Homo sapiens: one gene and its partner. Changing the gene in region 1 together with any one later gene gives a genetic interaction. Each region holds a gene or a part of one and is shown on either strand. Other genes may lie near its edges. The genes, in order: RNF139 and SREBF2.

Region 1 (3,822 bases):
TAATACTTAGAATACCAGGTTTTTTTTCAACCTAAAATGAGAATCCAATAGAAATGTTTTCTTTATAATTTATCAAGTATACCAACAGATTAACAACATTTCAAGACACTTTGTTGTAAACTTCATTGCGGAAGGCTCCCTTGGGAGTAAGGTAGTAGTAACATTTATTTCTGTGCTTTTCCATATTTATTCTGTCAGGTATTGAAATGTTTTTCCACAGGTTGCTTTTTGTTTTAGAGGTATTTCGGGTACTTGGAGAATTGTAAATATTATGTTTTGTACCCTGATTTTTAGTCATAAGTTTCCAAAAGAGGGTAAGGGTATGAATAGACTTTACACATAAAAGAGTGAAACACTTTGTTATGTAACATGTATAGTAAGTTTTTATTTTTTCTTTTGTTTTTATTTGCCTGTTTTTGGTAATCCAAATTGAAAAGGCCTGAACTCTTTCATGAGTTGAGTTCATATATAGTTTCAAAGTTCCTGAATTGATTTGGATACCTGCCTCTTTTTGGCTACCTTGAAAACTCTAGTGAACTCTCTTAATCACTGGAGAATTGGACTGAGATCTCTGAGTTGTGATTTCAGTAAATTCTGTTCTCAAAATTTTTTATAAAGCAGCATTTATATACAGTCTTGATTACTTGTGCAAGTCACTTCCAAATCCTAATGAGAAACTGTCTCTGGACTTTTATATTTTCTTAGACCTACAGTTTAAATACCAAGAAAGGCTTTCATGTCTAATGTAAAAATGCAGTGAAACTTTGATATTATTCTGCAAAGGCCATGAGAAAGATGATTACTTTGGAGACTTGTTACTTAGGATATTGGTTTTTAAAATGAGAGCAGATTCTTCCCAAATTCCATAGGTAGGAACGTGACTATAAAAGGAAAATCTATGAACCCCATATACCTACAAACTTTGGGTAGGAATTAAAACAAACATATACTATTCTTGAAATGTTAACTCACTATTACATCTTGGGGGGTGTGATTTTAATCAGGATAGAGTATTGTCAGATTGTTACTTGCTGGGATACATCCAAATTTTGAGGTTGTAGTCTTACTACATTATTTGTCTATCTGATGCCTTCCCCTTTTTTTCTTTGATACATTTGCATAAAGCAAAATGGCACTTTTTCACTAGAAATGTTTCTAAAACCCAAATAATTTCTTCATTTGTGTGTAGTAAAAACAAGCTTCAGGAAAAAAGTTATTAGAATTTTAAAAATTAGTTATAAAATTATGGCAAAGCTCATGAATAGTTACTGAAGATTAATTTACTACTTTGTGAATAGCAAGTTGACAAAAATAATTTACAGTTCCTGCTTGACTTTCTCCCCTCTAAGTGGCATAAAGTAGAACTAGAGTTATTTTGTTTTGGTTTTGACCCAACTTAGAAGATTTGTTTTAAAGTTTCTGAAGTTTTGTCTCAGGAAAATAAGGTGGTTTTCCATGTAGAGAATGTAAGATTACATATGGCATCTGGTAGGCTGAATTAATTCCATTTTCTTGTTACCTTCCATGGAAGAAGTTTCTAATAAAAAAATCTTTTCAGGGCCGAGCGCAGTGGCTCACGCCTATAATCGCAGTAGTTTGGGAGGCCGAAGCGGGTGGATCACCTGAGGTCAGGAGTTTGAGACCAGCCTGACCAACGTGGAAAAACCCTGTCTCTACTGAAAATGCAAAATTAGCTGGGAGTGGTGGTACATACCTGTAATCCCAGCTTCTTGGGAGGCTGAAGCAGAAGAATCGCTTGAACCTGGGAGGCAGAGGTTGCAGTGAGCCAAGATCACGCCATTGCACTCCAGCCTGGGCAACAGGAGCGAAACTCCATTAAAAAAAATATAAAAAAAAATATATATATATATAATATATATATATTATTTAAATATATATATATTTAAAAATATATATATTAAAAATATATATATATATTTAAATATATATATATTTAAAAATATATCTATTAAAAATATATATATATTATTTAAATATATATATATTTAAAAATATATATATTAAAAATATATATATTTAAAAGAGCCTGTTCTGAGCTCACAACTCTTTGGGGGATTATTAGTGGCCCATTTTCTTGGGGAATCAGGTGGTTTGTATTTAGAGGTTTATATGTCTTCTACTTTATTGTGTCCTTTTGTTTTCCTTTTCACAGATGACTTGACATTTTGGCACAGAATACATTTTAAATCCCTGGACAGAGTCATCACTTAAATGAACTAGCCCTTGCTTATATGTGCAGTGGATTGTGAAATGCGTCTACTGTAATAATATGCAATGTCTTGATTACCTGCTGAAATAAGGTGGATAGATGGATTTTTATTTTATTTAATATTTATTTATTTATGTATTTTGAGACAGGGTCTCACTGTCACCCAGGCTGGCATGCAGTGGTGCGATCTCAGCTAACTGCAATGCCTCCCGGGTTCAAGCGATTCTCCCACCTCAACCCCCTGAGTAGCTGGGAGTACAGGCACGTGCTACCACCCTGGCATATTTTTATATTTTTGGTAGAGACAGGGTTTCACCATGTTGACATGGTCTTGAACTCCTGGCCTCAAGTGATCCACCCGCCTCAGCCTCCCAAAGTGCTGGGATTACCATTGTGAGCCACCACACCCAGCCAAGATGGATTTTTAATTTGGAGTTTGTCACTTTTTCTGTACTCCAGGGTATGGTTTCTCATTGTCTGAAACATAGATTTTATTTTTCAAGCAGGCTATATTTTGTGGTTGCCTTTAAAAACATCCAGATGTGACAGACATTTCCTAATGAATACTAATTGTACTTATTTTGTACAAAATATTGTAGAATCCATAGATGGACAGGGTAGGATCTTTGCTTTCTGTTATAGATACATGTGTAATAGGGTAGATTATACTTAGATAACTGCAGACTACAATATCAGGTGATATATGAGTGTTAAATGTTTCACTAAGTTCTGCAGGTATGCTGAAAGAACAGTTTCTATCAAAGAAAGTAGGTTTCTAGGATAGGTAGGATTTGAATAGTCAGGGATTGGGAGGTTGGGGACATCATTCCAAGCAAAAAGAATGTAAACACTGCTGTAGCTATAGTGGAGAAAGGAATGTGTTTGGGGAATCCAAGTCTGGAGCACTGATGTGTGTGTGTTAGGAGGAATATTACTGTAAAGCAAATTGGGTTCTTGAATGCCAGGAGCAAGAATGTAGATTTTAGTTGATAGTAATTTCAGAGCCGCTGAAGTATTTTGAGCAGGGAATGAAGAAAGGCAATTTGGTGATGGCTTGTAAATGGATTTGGACAAGATGAGGGTTTTTTGAGACAGACTGATTGATTGGTGTCACAGAAAAGGGAGATAGAGGTGTTAGAAGAATTTGGCAACTAATTGGCAAAGTTTGAGCATGTGGGGCTGGGTTGGGAGTATCTCTAAAAGAACAATAATGGTACCTTCAACTGAAATAGCAAATCACAAGGAAAAGCTGATTCTAGTTTAAGGCAAGTCGAGTTTCAGAACTTTGGAGATTTGCAGTTGTAGGAGTGAAAGTAGGTGAGTATTCAGATGTCATTCCCATTGTTGAAACCTTGGATAATAATGTGTTTATTGTAATCCTACTTAAAATATGCATTTCTGTCAGAGTACAAAGAAAGATGGTGTCTATGGAGTGGGGGAAGGAGAATTACCATTTTCTAAAAACATGTCTTGGTTTTCTGAGTGTTACTTTTGTAATGTGAAGAACAATAAAAAGAGTTGACTATTTTAAGAAACAGATTCAGCATTATACAGGAAAAAGGGAACTTGGAAGATGTTTCTAAGTCCGAAGG
Region 2 (3,822 bases), on another chromosome or scaffold:
ACCTTCCATGTTCTTCACCTTGGAGCCCTTCCCTGCCTGGTGGCCCTAGGGTCCTTCAGAAGTCATCAGCAGGATCTAAGAGGTGAATGGTCTTGTGTGGAGCTATTAGCCAAGAATAGAGGGTCCTTCTGCTATTCTTTTCTACCTCCTTGTAGACTCCAGTACTCCCACATCGAACACACATTGCTAATACTTTTTCGAGCGAAAAACAACTAAGAGGGGTGACATTTACAATTTGACTGATTTGTGCTATAGACCCTCCCATACCTACTCAGCATATAGAGATTTAACATCTCTGAAGACTAACACCTCCAGGAATAAAGGGGGAGGGAGGAGGGTGGGGGAGAAGGCAGCTCTTACTGGTACTTGAAGGGCAGCCGTCTGGATAGGGGTGGTGAGGGCGGTGAGGGCCGGGTTCTGGACCGCAGCCATAACAGGGCTGCCATCTGTCTTCAGTGTGGTCAAAACAAGGGAATCTGTCTTGATGATCTGAGGCTGGACCAGGACCTGGATGAAGAAGGAAGAAAAGTAAAAGGATGATAGCATTATCCTTCTGTTATGCATTCCTTTCTTACTGCATAGACCTTCCAAGAAAGAATGAGAAATGATATAATTTTTATGAAATTGAGAATAAAAAAATGAACAGGAAATTTCATAGAGGCCATTTCAAAAGCCGGCTATTTTGTACAGCCTGAATACCGGGTTCAGGTGGAGAAAGAGGGGCTAGCTAATGAGGGTCCTGGCTTTTTTTTTTTTTTTTTTTTTTTGCTGAGACAGGGTTGCTCTCTGTTGCCCAGGCTGGAGTGCAGTGGTGCAATCTCAGCTCACTGCAGCCTTGACCTCCCGGGCTCAAGTGATCCTGCTGCCTCAGCCTCCTGAGTAGCTGGGACTACAGGTGTGTGCCACCATGCCTGGCTAATTGTTTGTATTTTTTTGTAGAGACAGGGTTTCACCATGTTGCCCAGGCTGGTCCTGAACTTTTGGGTTCAAGAAATCCACCTGCCTCAGCCTCCCAAAGTGCTGAGATTACAGGCGTGAGCCATGGTGCTCAGCCAGGTCATGGGTTTTTAGGTTGAAAGACTTTCAAGAGGGTGGTGCCAGTGGCCCAGCAGGAGCAGAGCAGAGATGGGTAGGGTGGATGGCAGAGAGGAGAGAAAAGACTCAGGAAAGCCAGACACATGGCTGAGAAGCAAAAATAATAAACCTGATTTTTTTAAGATAAATTGTTAGTAAGAAAATATAGGCCAGATGTGGTGGCTCATGCTTGTAATCCCAGCACTTTGGGAGACCAAGGCAGGTGGATCATGAGGTCAGGAGTTTGAGACCAGCCTAACCAACATGGTGAAACCCTGTCTCTACTAAAAATACAAAAATTAGCTGGGCGTGATGGCGCGTGCCTGGAATCCCAGCTACTCGGGAGGCCGAGGCAGGAGAATTGCTTGAACCCAGGAGGCTGAGGTTGCACAGTGAGCCGAGATCGTGCCACTGCACTCCAGCCTGGGCGACAGAGCAAGACTCTCAAAAAAAAAAAAAGAAAAAAGAGGATATAGTCCACGATGATATATAACATAAAGACGTTTTTTGTGATTATAAAAATAATACACGTCCCCCAGCTGGGCACAGTGGCTCCCACCTGTAGTCTCAGCACTTTGGGAGGCCGAGATCGATGCACTGTTTGAGGCCAGGAGTTCAAAACCAGCCTGGCCAACCTGGAGAAACCCCATCTCTACTAAAAATACAAAAAACTAGCCAGGTGCAGTGGCAGGTGCTTGTAATCCCAGCTACTTGGGAGGCTGAGGCAGGAGAATCGCTTGAACCTGGTAGGCGGGGGTTGCAGGGAGCCAAGATCACGCCACTGCACTCCAACCTGGGCAACAAGAGCAAAACTGTCTCCAAAAAAAAAAAATTAAAAAAAAGATTAATAATACATGCCCCCCCTCCCCCCAACCCAATATATGTTCAGGATCCACAGCAGAAAATATGGAGAACAGAAAACTATGAAAGCCAAGGGCAGTGGCTCACGTCTGTAATCCCAGCACTTTGGGAGGCCGAGGCGGGTGGATCACAAGGTCAGAAGTTCAAGCCAGCCTGGCCAACATCCCGTCTCTACTAAAAATATAAAAATTAGCCGGGTGTGGTGGCACATGCCTGTAGTCCCAGCTACTCGGGAGGCTGAAGCAGCAGAACTGCTTGAACCCGGGAGGCGGAGGTTATAGTGAGCTGAGACCACACCACTCCACTCCAGCTTGGGCAACAGAATGAGACTCCGTCTCAAAACAACAACAACAACAAAAAAACACAACACAAAACTATGAAAAAGAAAATTATCTGGGAAATACCAATTTAGCACATTTCTTTCCAGTTTTATGCCCATTACATGTGTACGTAAGTGACTGCACCAGCCTTTCCTGAGTGCCAGTGTCTATCTACAGATATGGACTCAGCCAGGTCACTATACGCTGCTCACAGGTGCATCCTGGCGCCCTACAAGCTGCTTTGTGTACACTCTGGTTGGTCCTTCTTAGTATGTAGACCACATCTTCAACCAAGGACCAGTTAACAGCCCCAACCAGTGCCTCCCTGAATCCTTTCCAGCCACTTACCGGGACCTGCTGCACCTGTGGCGCAGCAACTGTCTGCACCGTAGCCGGGGCAAGGGTCTGCAGCGTGCCATTGGCCGTTTGTGTCAGCACCCGCTGGGCCTGTACTGTCTGCACCTGCTGCTGAATGGTGACCGGCTGTACCTGGGAGGATGTCACCAGGCTTTGGACTTGAGGCTGAAGGACTTGGGAGAAGAGGAGAAAGAAGGCACAGAGATGAGGAATGCATTCTGTCACTGCAGCTGCAGCAGAAACCTGAGGATGGAGTATCTCATAATGATTCCAACTCCCCACCTACTGCTGAAGATGATGTGCACAGCCATTTACAAGGTGGCTTAGACAACAAGAACATCCCATAAGGGCTGCATCAATTTCTGAGGGAACGAGTACAAATTGTTTTATTACTCTGGGTGCCAGGGTGGGGGAAAGGGAAGCTAATCAGCAAATGACTGCACCCAGCAAGGGAGTTAACAGATGTTGAGAATCAACAACTCCCTGGGGCTTCATTTTCTTCCATCCTTTCTGGACGGCAAGTGCACTTTGGGAGGACTGTCTCAGCTTTTTGCCTTTACATTCCCCCACCTGTCCCAATTCTTGAACTCCATTGAAGAACTATAAGATTCTTTGAAATTCAAAGCAATACTAATCTTACCCTGGGCTCCCCACAGAGTCAGAGGGAAATATGATGAAAAGGCACTGGGATGCAGCACATCACAGAAAGAACAGGCCCCTTTCAGTCATCCATTCCCTCAACACATACTAAGGGCCCAGCATGAGGCTTGCTACTTGAAGCTGCTGCACCTATATTAAAAGTCATATTCATCACCATAGTGGATGCTCAGATGTTTGCTGAATGAATAGTTCTCAACTGTGGCAGCTGAGATCTGGCTGCCGCCTAGCCAATTTCAAGCCTTATTCAAGTCTCCACCACTAGTTATCAGAATGGCCCTGTGTCTACTATGCTTGCTGGATTTTTTTTTTTCTTTTTAAGATGGGAGTCTCGCTCTGTTGCCTAGGCTGGAGTGCAGTGGCACGATCTCTGCTCACTGCAAGCTCTGCCTCCCGGGTTCACGCCATTCTCCTGCCTCAGCCTCCCGAGTAGCTGGGACTACAGGCGCCCGCCACCATGCCCGGCTAATTTTTTCTATTTTTTAGTAGAGATGGGGTTTCACTGAGTTAGCCAGGATGGTCTCAATCTCCTGACCTCGTGATCCGCCCGCCT

What was found.
Region 2: changes in RNF139 (region 1) and SREBF2 together harm fitness less than expected from each alone (positive genetic interaction), as found in Homo sapiens cells (one large-scale study listed by BioGRID).

The regions. Positions count from the first base shown.
Region 1 is NC_000008.11:124,481,087-124,484,908, forward strand, and holds part of RNF139 (E3 ubiquitin-protein ligase RNF139), read left to right. Parts: intron 1-2,173; exon of another isoform or gene 2,174-2,321; intron 2,322-3,822. UniProt on the Homo sapiens protein: E3-ubiquitin ligase; acts as a negative regulator of cell proliferation through mechanisms involving G2/M arrest and cell death.
Region 2 is NC_000022.11:41,867,574-41,871,395, reverse strand, and holds part of SREBF2 (sterol regulatory element-binding protein 2), read right to left. Parts: intron 2,786-3,822; coding exon 2,604-2,785; intron 508-2,603; coding exon 361-507; intron 1-360.